Linked DNA regions of Homo sapiens: region 1 is linked to region 2. The links come from fine-mapping of genetic effects on gene expression. Tissue or cell type: whole blood. Region 2 holds a variant in brackets; the other region holds the start of a gene. All regions are shown on one strand. Distances are from middle to middle.

Evidence for each region. PIP is the estimated chance that this variant, and not a neighbour inherited with it, causes the effect.
Region 1: it holds the start of GSK3B, and the variant in region 2 is fine-mapped to the expression of GSK3B in whole blood (TOPMed, PIP 0.93).

The regions. Positions count from the first base shown.
Region 1 is chr3:120,091,602-120,096,749 of GRCh38, reverse strand. GSK3B (glycogen synthase kinase 3 beta) reads left to right here and starts at 2,303. Exons shown (of 11, transcript NM_001146156.2): 1 at 2,303-3,403. The coding sequence starts at 3,316. GSK3B-DT (GSK3B divergent transcript) reads right to left here and starts at 1,646. Exons shown (of 3, transcript NR_186629.1): 1 at 972-1,646. RefSeq lists enhancers at 1,195-1,514, 1,794-2,088, 1,715-2,124.
Region 2 is chr3:119,814,724-119,819,871 of GRCh38, reverse strand. It overlaps NR1I2 (nuclear receptor subfamily 1 group I member 2), which reads right to left. Exons shown (of 9, transcript NM_003889.4): 6 at 4,751-4,893; 7 at 4,433-4,549; 8 at 4,041-4,146; 9 at 1,385-2,804. The coding sequence ends at 2,660. Among named protein-coding and RNA genes, the nearest start is that of NR1I2, 35 kb to the right of the region's middle. RefSeq lists an enhancer at 3,708-4,208. The variant C/T (reference allele first, on the strand shown) is at 2,290.

The DNA.
Region 1 (5,148 bases), 280 kb before region 2:
CAGGAGAATCACTTGAATCGGGGAGGCGGAGGTTGCGGTGAGCCGAGATCGCGCCACTGCACTCCAGCCTGGGCAACAAGAGTGAAACTCCGTCTCAAAAATAAATAAATAAATAAAGATACATTTCAATTATTTAAGGTCCCAAACCATTTTGTTTTCACCCTCCTACTGCTATCGGGCCCCTAACAATTATTAACACTTTTTCCAATGCCTCATTGGCCAAGGGATGTTTTTAGGTTGGCCTGCAGGGTTTGAAAATTTGGTTACCAACATTTAAAAATGCAGAGATTTCACACAAAAATCCAATTTTGGGGTTTCTTTTGGGAGGAAAAAAATTGAACATCTGAGAACACTGGACCCACATTCCTGAGGGCAACAATCTGCTAGAGTTGAGCAGCTGTTCCTTTTAGTTATGGCATGGATATTCCAATTTGCCATTTTCCCTATCATTCCCCATTGTCTTACACAAGGCCAGTCTCACTCATTTGCTTTACTTGTCTGGCCTCTGTAGCCATTTGAATCTGCAAACACTATCTAGACCTTTCCTGTCTTCCATCAAAGCTTACTTTGTTCTGTCCCAAGTCCTTCATCAGTGTTTCAAAGCAAGAGCCAGGTAATCTGATCAAATATAGGTCCTTTAACATGTGCTTTCTGGAGACAGCATCTTAACAGAAAGAGATGACTCTGCAGGTAGAAATTACAGGCACCACTGGATTACAATCAGGATGGCAACTGTCTGTTCTACTTTCTCTGTTATCTTGACGTAGCCATACCTCACTGTTCTAAAGCAGACCAAAGGAACTGGTTCTATGGTAGAACAATGGACGCTGGTCTTATGTATGAAATCTTCTCAAGCTGCACTTTTATAGATCACCCTAGTTCCAAAAGATCCAAAGCTACCACGGGCTCCTCTGACCCCCCCATTTCCTCGGAGGCTTCAGGATATCCGGCCTGACGGCATTTCCCCTCACCTGCTTTCGGGGCCCGTTTTGCGCTGGGCAGTTGCGCCCAAGGAGCGCGCGCATCCAGCATGAGCTCATTTCTCATGGGCGTTTCCAGAGGCCCGGCCGGGCCGCGCACACCAAGCGCAGCAAGCCTCTGTATCAATGGCCCCCGCGGCTGGGCGGGGCGCGGCCGCCCAAAGGCGCTGCCTTTCTGGAAGCTTTGTTCCCATTTTAGCGTCTGAGAGCTTGCAGCCGGCTGGGAAGGCCCCCTTGGTCCGTCTGGCCCTTTCGGGGAAGAGGCCAACACTCGGCACACGCGATCCACGGCAGAGGGGAGCCTTGGGCGCGCAGAATTGGCTGCGCCCCGCCGAGAGCCTCCTGTGGGTGGGGAGAGCCCCTCCACCCCTCTGCTCGCTTGAGCGCTCAGAGCCCAGGGCCGCCGACCGCAGCACTTTCCGATTTGCTGCACCGAGGGCCCGCGGTCCCTGTGTGCGGTTTCCACCGTTGTTGGAGGCGGCCGCAGGCGAACCGTCGGGTCGTCAGCCACGACCCGAGTCAGGCATCTCCCCGCTCCTGGGACCGGGGCCGAAGGCCAATCACACTGCAGCTAGGTCTTGCGATTGGACGGCAGTGAGAGCCGATTGGCCGCCGCCGCGAGTTTCGGGCTCCCTCCCTCTCCCTTTTGCCCCAACTCCAGCGCCTAAGCTTCAGGCCAATGAGACAGCGCTTTATAGACGCCCTCCCTTCGCTTTCTTCTCCCCACCTTGGAGAGGGAGGGGAAGTCCTGACTGGCCAGACTGTCCTCGGAAGCCCCCTTCTCTTCACCAATCACCGAAGGAGGTACGCTCCCAGCGGAGTTTTCCAGCCAATCACAAAGCGGCGGCGGCGCCCAGCCGTGCAGTTTCACCAGCGTCTCTGGGTTTCACCGTCCTCAACTCTTCAAGCCTCTTCGTAAGGGCCGGCGACTCTGATTGGCCACTGTTGCCATTGTCGAATGTCTCCTCCAGCCAGCCACCGAACAAGGCGAATTCACCCTTTCCGTTCGGCTACCTTCGGCATTTTCCGCTCTTTGGGCGTGGCTTCCCAGCGTCACTTTCTAATTGGTTTCTCAGGCTGATCGGCTTTTTCCGGGAGGAGCCGCAAACAAACGACGTCCGTGATTGGCTCCGTTCGGGCTTCGGCTCCCAGCCGAAGCGGGCGAGCGTGGGGCTCGGCCGGCGATTCCCAGACGCCTGTTACGCGGGCGGCGGGGCGCTGGGCGGTGTAAGGCTGGGTGGGGGAGGAAGGAGGTGGAGGACGAGTAGGAGGGGGGAGGAGGAGTGGGGAAGTGCAAGGCGGCTGCGCAGACAGCGCTCCTCACACAGAGCAGCTCCTGACCCGGGCGAATGCGGGCTTGTGCCGCCGCCGCCGCCGCCGCCGCCCGGGCCAAGTGACAAAGGAAGGAAGGAAGCGAGGAGGAGCCGGCCCCGCAGCCGCTGACAGGGCTCTGGGCTGGGGCAAAGCGCGGACACTTCCTGAGCGGGCACCGAGCAGAGCCGAGGGGCGGGAGGGCGGCCGAGCTGTTGCCGCGGACGGGGGAGGGGGCCCCGAGGGACGGAAGCGGTTGCCGGGTTCCCATGTCCCCGGCGAATGGGGAACAGTCGAGGAGCCGCTGCCTGGGGTCTGAAGGGAGCTGCCTCCGCCACCGCCATGGCCGCTGGATCCAGCCGCCGCCTGCAGCTGCTCCTGGCGCAATGAGGAGAGGAGCCGCCGCCACCGCCACCGCCCGCCTCTGACTGACTCGCGACTCCGCCGCCCTCTAGTTCGCCGGGCCCCTGCCGTCAGCCCGCCGGATCCCGCGGCTTGCCGGAGCTGCAGCGTTTCCCGTCGCATCTCCGAGCCACCCCCTCCCTCCCTCTCCCTCCCTCCTACCCATCCCCCTTTCTCTTCAAGCGTGAGACTCGTGATCCTTCCGCCGCTTCCCTTCTTCATTGACTCGGAAAAAAAATCCCCGAGGAAAATATAATATTCGAAGTACTCATTTTCAATCAAGTATTTGCCCCCGTTTCACGTGATACATATTTTTTTAGGATTTGCCCTCTCTTTTCTCTCCTCCCAGGAAAGGGAGGGGAAAGAATTGTATTTTTTCCCAAGTCCTAAATCATCTATATGTTAAATATCCGTGCCGATCTGTCTTGAAGGAGAAATATATCGCTTGTTTTGTTTTTTATAGTATACAAAAGGAGTGAAAAGCCAAGAGGACGAAGTCTTTTTCTTTTTCTTCTGTGGGAGAACTTAATGCTGCATTTATCGTTAACCTAACACCCCAACATAAAGACAAAAGGAAGAAAAGGAGGAAGGAAGGAAAAGGTGATTCGCGAAGAGAGTGATCATGTCAGGGCGGCCCAGAACCACCTCCTTTGCGGAGAGCTGCAAGCCGGTGCAGCAGCCTTCAGCTTTTGGCAGCATGAAAGTTAGCAGTGAGTATTGGTTTTATTTTACACCCCTTTTCCACCTCGCCCTTAAAATAAGAAACCTCGAAATACCAGGATCTGAAATTATTAGACCTCCTGATAAACAGGCAATGGAAAAGGGCAAAACCTATCTTCAGTCAAGGATGAAGCAGCTCCCTTTTTACTCCTCCCATACCCCCTCCCCCGGTCTCATTAACCTTGAATTGAGATAATATGATATTTATTTGGATGATTCGATTTCAAACTGCTTTCTTGTACTTTTCTTGCTGTTGGTAGTCAGTTTCATCAAGTGCTCGAGTGTTTCCACGTTAAAGTAGTGATGACAGTGTTTACTTGCCCATCCTTTAGAATAAAGAGAAGGACAAGATTTGATTACTAAACCATTATGCACATTTGCAGAATTTTTGGAATTTGGAATGAGAGAATATTTTAGGTCTCAGGGGTTATCATAGTTTGATATACTTAATAGAGACGTTAAATGTCCCACCCTCCCAACATTTTTTTCTTGTTTGTATGACTACACATAATATTTGTTCTTAATCTGTGGATGAACTTCCTCAGTAACCATTCACATTTGGAGGCTGCCATTGATTTCTCTCTTTAGAAGGGACTAGTGGGAGCCAATAAATACCTAGCAGCAGTAACATCTCTGTATGCATTTGTGTTCAATTGGATAAGTGGTTTGATGTGTTATCTCTTAACCTTCCTGTTTTGACATTACCAACCTGCCACCGTATAATTTATGTTTAATCAAAAGTTAACTTGGAAGTATTAATAGGTCCAAGTTTTGATTGAGATTTGTTTTGTCATAGTGCCAAATACTAAGTTAAATGTTGTCACTGGCTCATTACATTTAAGTTCAATTTTGGAGTGCTACTGCATTCATTACCTGTTAAATGTTCTGGCGGGTTCCTTAAAAAGGACGATTTAAAACACTCTAGCGTTAGTTTCCATCATATTTAGATAACTGTGGATTTAGTTAGAAGAATGTGGATTTAGTCCTTTCCATTTTGGCTTTTGCAGATGGCTATGGTCCTAGAAATAATAGGGATATTTGGGCTGTGTTCAGGGTTGTGGATAGACTACTCTTGTCCTGGGTTTGTGCTGAAAAGTATGCTCTTGAAGTGTTTAATATATACTAAGTATCTAATGTTCCAGTGTATCTCTATTTATGGAGAAGTTCATGTGGTATTTAATGATAGCTTGTTTAAACATACTTGCAGAATTTAACAAAAATATCTATATTGTTTCCTTATTGTGGGAAAGAGGGGCATCATGAGGGCAAAGACAAATTAATTTGTTGCCTAGAAGAACTGAGAGAACTAAAGAACTGAGATTTTAAGAACCCACACACACGCAAAACATGATGTTATGTGAAATTGATTATATTCTTAGGCAACATAAAATGATCACTTTTAGTTGAACTCAAGATTTCAATTCATGTTGGCTTTGGGAACTAGCCTGAAACAGGGTAGTCTAGGTAATAGCTGAATGGGAGATAATTTTTGAAAGTTAATTTTTTTTTTTTCTTGTGGCTTGCAAGTAGAGAATGCCCGGGTAGGTAAAGAGGAAAGCTGATTATGCATCTTTCAGGGAAGGGTCGTGCTTTCTAAGCACTTCATGGAGTGATTTGAAAAATATTTTAAAATTCCGGGGTAATTTTCAGCTATGATGATACAAATCTTATAATAGCTACTTAAGAGCCTCTTGTGGTACTGGAGTGTTTGTATGTTTTACATCTTGGTAATATA
Region 2 (5,148 bases):
AGACTGACTCCATCCTCTCCTCACTGACCCAGAAAAAAAAAAAAAAAAAAAAAGTGGTCACAAGGATGCCTAAAAACTGATGCTTAGTTCTGTTTACTCAAAAGTTCAGGGAAGGGAGTAAAGAAGAAACTCAAATGTTGGAGTAGGAAGGTTAAAATCTGGCTTCTAGTCCCATAAACTTGTGATCCACAGACCTACTGAAAGGAAGTACCCTATGTGAACTCTTCAGGGCATCTAACATTGAATCTTTCTTCACTCTTGAAATACATTTAGTTTTTATAATCTATATAAATTATATGTACATATCAATTCAATGTTTGGAGAACTACCCTGGAGTTTTTAAATCAAGACTGGGAGATGGAAATTTGCCCTCCATTCCATCTTAACCTCACCTTACCCTGTCCTACAGCTTACAACAGTTTCAGGCTCTTGAACAAATAGCACTCGAATCATTTCAGTAAGGAAAGGGAGATGCATATGATTTATGAATACACTGGAGTGAAATCTATCTTTCCAAATTAGAAATTTGTATTTCTAATTATAAATGGATTCATAATTAAAATTCCTGGGAGCAAAAGCTGCATTCATTGAGTTTGGAAAGAGAAGCTCTTTTTTTCCCTCAGTATCTTTTCTAAAAATAAGTGCTCCCTATATCTCCTTAATGCAGAAAAATCTGGTAAAGTCAGAGGGATGACAGAATATGTTTACTTGCTTTGATTTATATTACTGATGATTTACCATGTTCTCAAAGTTTGGCCTGCTTCTTGTAAAATGTCAAAAGCTAAGTAATTATCTGTTCTTTAAAATTCAGTTACTGTGAAGTTTCATTTGAATGAAATATTAGACATTTAAAATTAATTCCTACTTTTTTTTTTTTTTGAGACAGAGTCTCGCTCTTTCCCCCAGGCTGGAGTGCAGTGGCACGATCTCAGCTCACTGCAACCTCCGCCTGCCTGGTTCAAGTGATTCTCCCGCCACGGCCTCCCAAGTAGCTGAGACTACACGTGCCCAGCACCACACCTGGCTAATTTTTTGTATTTTTAGTAGAGACGGGGTTTCACTGTGTTAGCCAGGATGGTCTCGATCTTCTGACCTTGTGATCCGCCAGCCTTGGCCTCCCAAAGTGCTGGGATTACAGGCCTGAGCCACCTCGCCCGGACTACATTTTAATTATGGTATGCACATATGTTAAACTTTTATACAGAACAATCATTTTATAAGTAAGCCAAGTTAAATAATTCATTTTTATGTTCTTACGCCGGAGTCTTCAGATTTATACAGGATAATAATAAAATAAGTAGTAAAAATATGTATGCTTGCGTATGTTTCTATTTCCACACCCCCACATTATTTTCCCCAGAAAAAAGCCAAAAAAGTTTACCCCTCTAGCCAAAAGTACATTATTTAATTCCTTTTGCCTTGATTTGACATTAAACCCAGGGCTACATTTCCCAAAACTAGTTCTTAGGTGTGGAATGCCTTATATAAAGTATAATTTGTGAAAATGCAAAAAAATTTTTACTCACAAGTGGCTATAAACAAGGCAGGCACTTTCATACCCTTTAGCTTTGAGAATAGATGTGTACACAGAAATATAAGGTGCATGTAAATGGTTCTTCTCCGGTGTGTTTAACTGATTGTCAGCGTAGCCTTGTCACAGAGCATACCCAGCATTCCAGCCCCAGGAACAAACCCAGGCCCCATCAAGTGGCAAACAGACCTACCTACACCAAATCACACACACGCACTCACAGCTGCAGTTTGTGCCCTTGCTCCTACAGACTCATGTCCTTGGGAACCTTCACTTGGGTACCCAGTGCCCGCCATCACAGCTCAGCATCCACACAGGGAAATTCCTTGTGCTGCTTTTGTCACTTATCATTTCTCCTTTTGATCCAAATCGTTTGTGTTTCTGTTTGTTTTTTTAACTATAAACTCTGTGAGCTCAGGATCTATATCTGAGTCAATGCTGTATACCCCACAGCAGGCTACCTATTATCGGTGCTTAATAATGTGTTCAAATGGATGCAGAGACACAGAATGATGTGGCCGGAATGAGGTCATGCCAAGCTTCTGACATTTGGTGCAGGCCTCCTGGCTTCTCATCTCTCTAGAGGACTCCCACAGATACTCATGCGCCTGCCGATGAGTACAGGCCTGGAGCCCACAAAGCAGCTCGGAAGAGGAGGGGAACGAGTGGGAAGTGGGAGACAGGACTATTAGAGGTAGCAATGAAAAGACTCAGGAAGCGAACAAACGTGGGTATGTGGGCATAGACCCCAGATGGCC[C/T]ATCCTTGGTCGCTTGGTCCCTTCCACACCTTGACACTTTAGTGGGATCTGAGGGATTTCTCCCCAGACCACAGGGCCTTTTAAAAGGAAAGGGCAACCTTGCCTCTCTGATGGTCCTGACCTACAGGTCAGTGCACTCTCCACGTAAGAGTCTGTGGCTTCACTCCCTACAGACTGAACTGGGGGTGGGGGGCACCCATGTCCTTCCTGAGGAATGCTAGCCAGCTGTCATAGCAGGAATTCCCTAGGGAGACAGGCCAGCAGGGCATTGTCGGCTCTTGGCAGTGTCCATCTGTCTTGGCCCGGGAGTGGCGGCTCAGAGGGCTCTGGGTCTGGCTGCCTCTCGGAGGTGTCACCCAAGGGCAGCCGCTCAGCTACCTGTGATGCCGAACAACTCCTGCATGAGGGGCGTAGCAAAGGGGTGTATGTCCTGGATGCGCAGCAGCCGCTGGGTGTGCTGAGCATTGATGCTGCGGAGCTCGGTGAGCATAGCCATGATCTTCAGGAACAAGAACCTGCATGCCAGCCAGAGAAAAGATTGTGGGTGCAGCCCGCCCTGACCCACAAGCCTCAGGGCTGCTCTGAGGCTGCACAAGCATAATCTCTGGACATTTCAGGTCAGCCAAGAGACAAGGCTTGGCTGAATTCCGTAAGCTTCTCTTTTACCCTGTAGATGAGAAAGGCAGAACAGCCTGCCCAATACTCTCCCCACTCCCATCCCATTCATGGGAGCTGTGTCTTTTTTTTTTTTTTTTCTTTAAAGGGACAGGATCTCGTTCTGTCACCCAGGCTAGAGCATGATGGCACGATCATGGACTCACTGCAGTGTCAAACTCCTGGACTCAAGAGACCTCCAGCCTCAGCCTCCTGGGTAGCTAGGACTAGAGCACATGCCACCATACCTGGCTAATTTTTTAAAATTTTTCTAGAGTTGGGGTCTGGCTATGTTGCCTAGGCTGGTTTTGAACTCCTGGCCCCAAGGGATCCTCCTGTCTTGACCTCTCAAAGTGCTGGGATTATAGGTGTGAGCCACGACACCCAGCTGCGGGAGTTGCATCTTTGTACACAGAGACTTCCGTGGGAAAATGTAGATATTGCAGCTACCAGTTTGGGGGTGTGGGGCTGTCACTGCCTTCGTTAATGTCCAGGGGCCAGGACTGAGCAGAGTCGTTGTGGAGGTTAGGGGCTGCAGGCTGGAATCCCTTCCTGGAACTAGCTTTGGATCTAGTGTCTGAGATGTACCATATGCCTCAGTATCCCCATGATGGAAAAGAAAGTTGGCACTTCCAGCCTCCTGCCTCCATACAAGGAAGGGTTGAGCAAATAAAGACATGGCCACTCCCAGCATCCCAGGACACCAAGCCAAAAAGAAAGCTGTGCAGGCCAAATAAGGATTTCAGTTTATAGGTTCACACTATAATACTCAGTGTTGGCCTTAACCCTTCATGGCCTTGGGCTCCGTAAAATCCAAGTTTGTCTCTGGGTCTGTGGGCATCAGTCTGGGCAGTAGGTCACAGGAGCTACTGAGGACCAGTGAAGGTATAGAAGCCCCTTTCTGGGCCACGTCCCCCTGTTTGCTTGTGTTTTTCCTGGGAAGTGGTTAGGTAGTGCTCAAAAGTGTGAGCTTTGGACCTGGTCTGGCTGGGGCTACCTCCAGATGCCACCCTCTGGCCATGAAGTCTTGGGCAATTTCCCTGAACCTCGGCTCCCTCACATCACCCTCACGGGTCCTCACCCCCTGCTGTGCTCACCTATGAGCAGGCTGGGGCCGATTGCATTCAATGTAGGACTTCAGAGTAATGGCGAATTGCTCCTGCAGCTGGTCCACCACGCGGTGCTGCAGCACACCTGGGCGGTCTGGAGGGGAGGGAGGTGTGGTGCAAGATCATGGGGCAAAGACAAGCTCAGTCCAGCCCAGAGTCAGGGCATTGCTCGCCAACCACCCTCCAGAGCTGGAGTCACCCAGGCAGGGAAGTGAAGGAAGACCAGGGCTGGGCATCACCCACTGACCCCAGGAGAAACCAGCGAGAGCCCCCATCCTGGCTGCGCAGTGAATGAGGAGCAAGGCCATAGACTGGGACCTTCCCTGGGGAGGGCAGATAAGGCTGGGGGGGATGTCAGGCAGCCTAGGGGAGATCCTCACCTGGGGAGAAGAGGGAGATGGCCTGCATCAGCACATACTCCTCCTCATGCAGCTGCAGCTTCTTCAGCATGTAGTGGAATTTCAGCATGGGCTCCAGTAGAAGTTGCTGGAAGCCACCTGTGGATGGTAACAGGATGGAGGGGCAGCTTCTCAGCAAGCTGACCAAGATCTAATCATCCCTCACCAATATCTTGTTTTCCACCATTCCATCTTCCTGCCCTGCCATCCCAGAACCTGCATATCCTGGCGTAGCTCCCTTCCTCCCATAACTGCAGTGTTTCCCTCCCTCTGCCAGGGCAGGCAGGCTCTCTCGGGCACCTGCAGTGTCTTCCAAGCAGTAGGACAGCCGGCCACACTCCCAGGTTCCAGTCTCCGCGTTGAACACTGTGTTGAATCTCAGTTGACACAGCTCGAAAGCGGCCCCCTTCAGCAGGGAGATCTGGTCCTCGATGGGCAAGTCCCTGGCAGCAAGGATGGGGAGGGGAGGACAGCTCCCTGGGAGGCAGCCCACAGACCGGCACCAGCAGCCATCCCATAATCCAGAAGTTGGGGGCGAGAGGAAGAGGGAGGATGGCTCCTTTCCCTGAGGATGACTGTGGCTGCTGTCTGGCTGCCTCTCATCTCTCCCCTCACAACCCAGCAGACAGCTCTGCCCCGCAGCATCCTCTCCTCCCCTCCAACCTCCGGGAACTCCACCCACTGAGCTTGGCATCCAG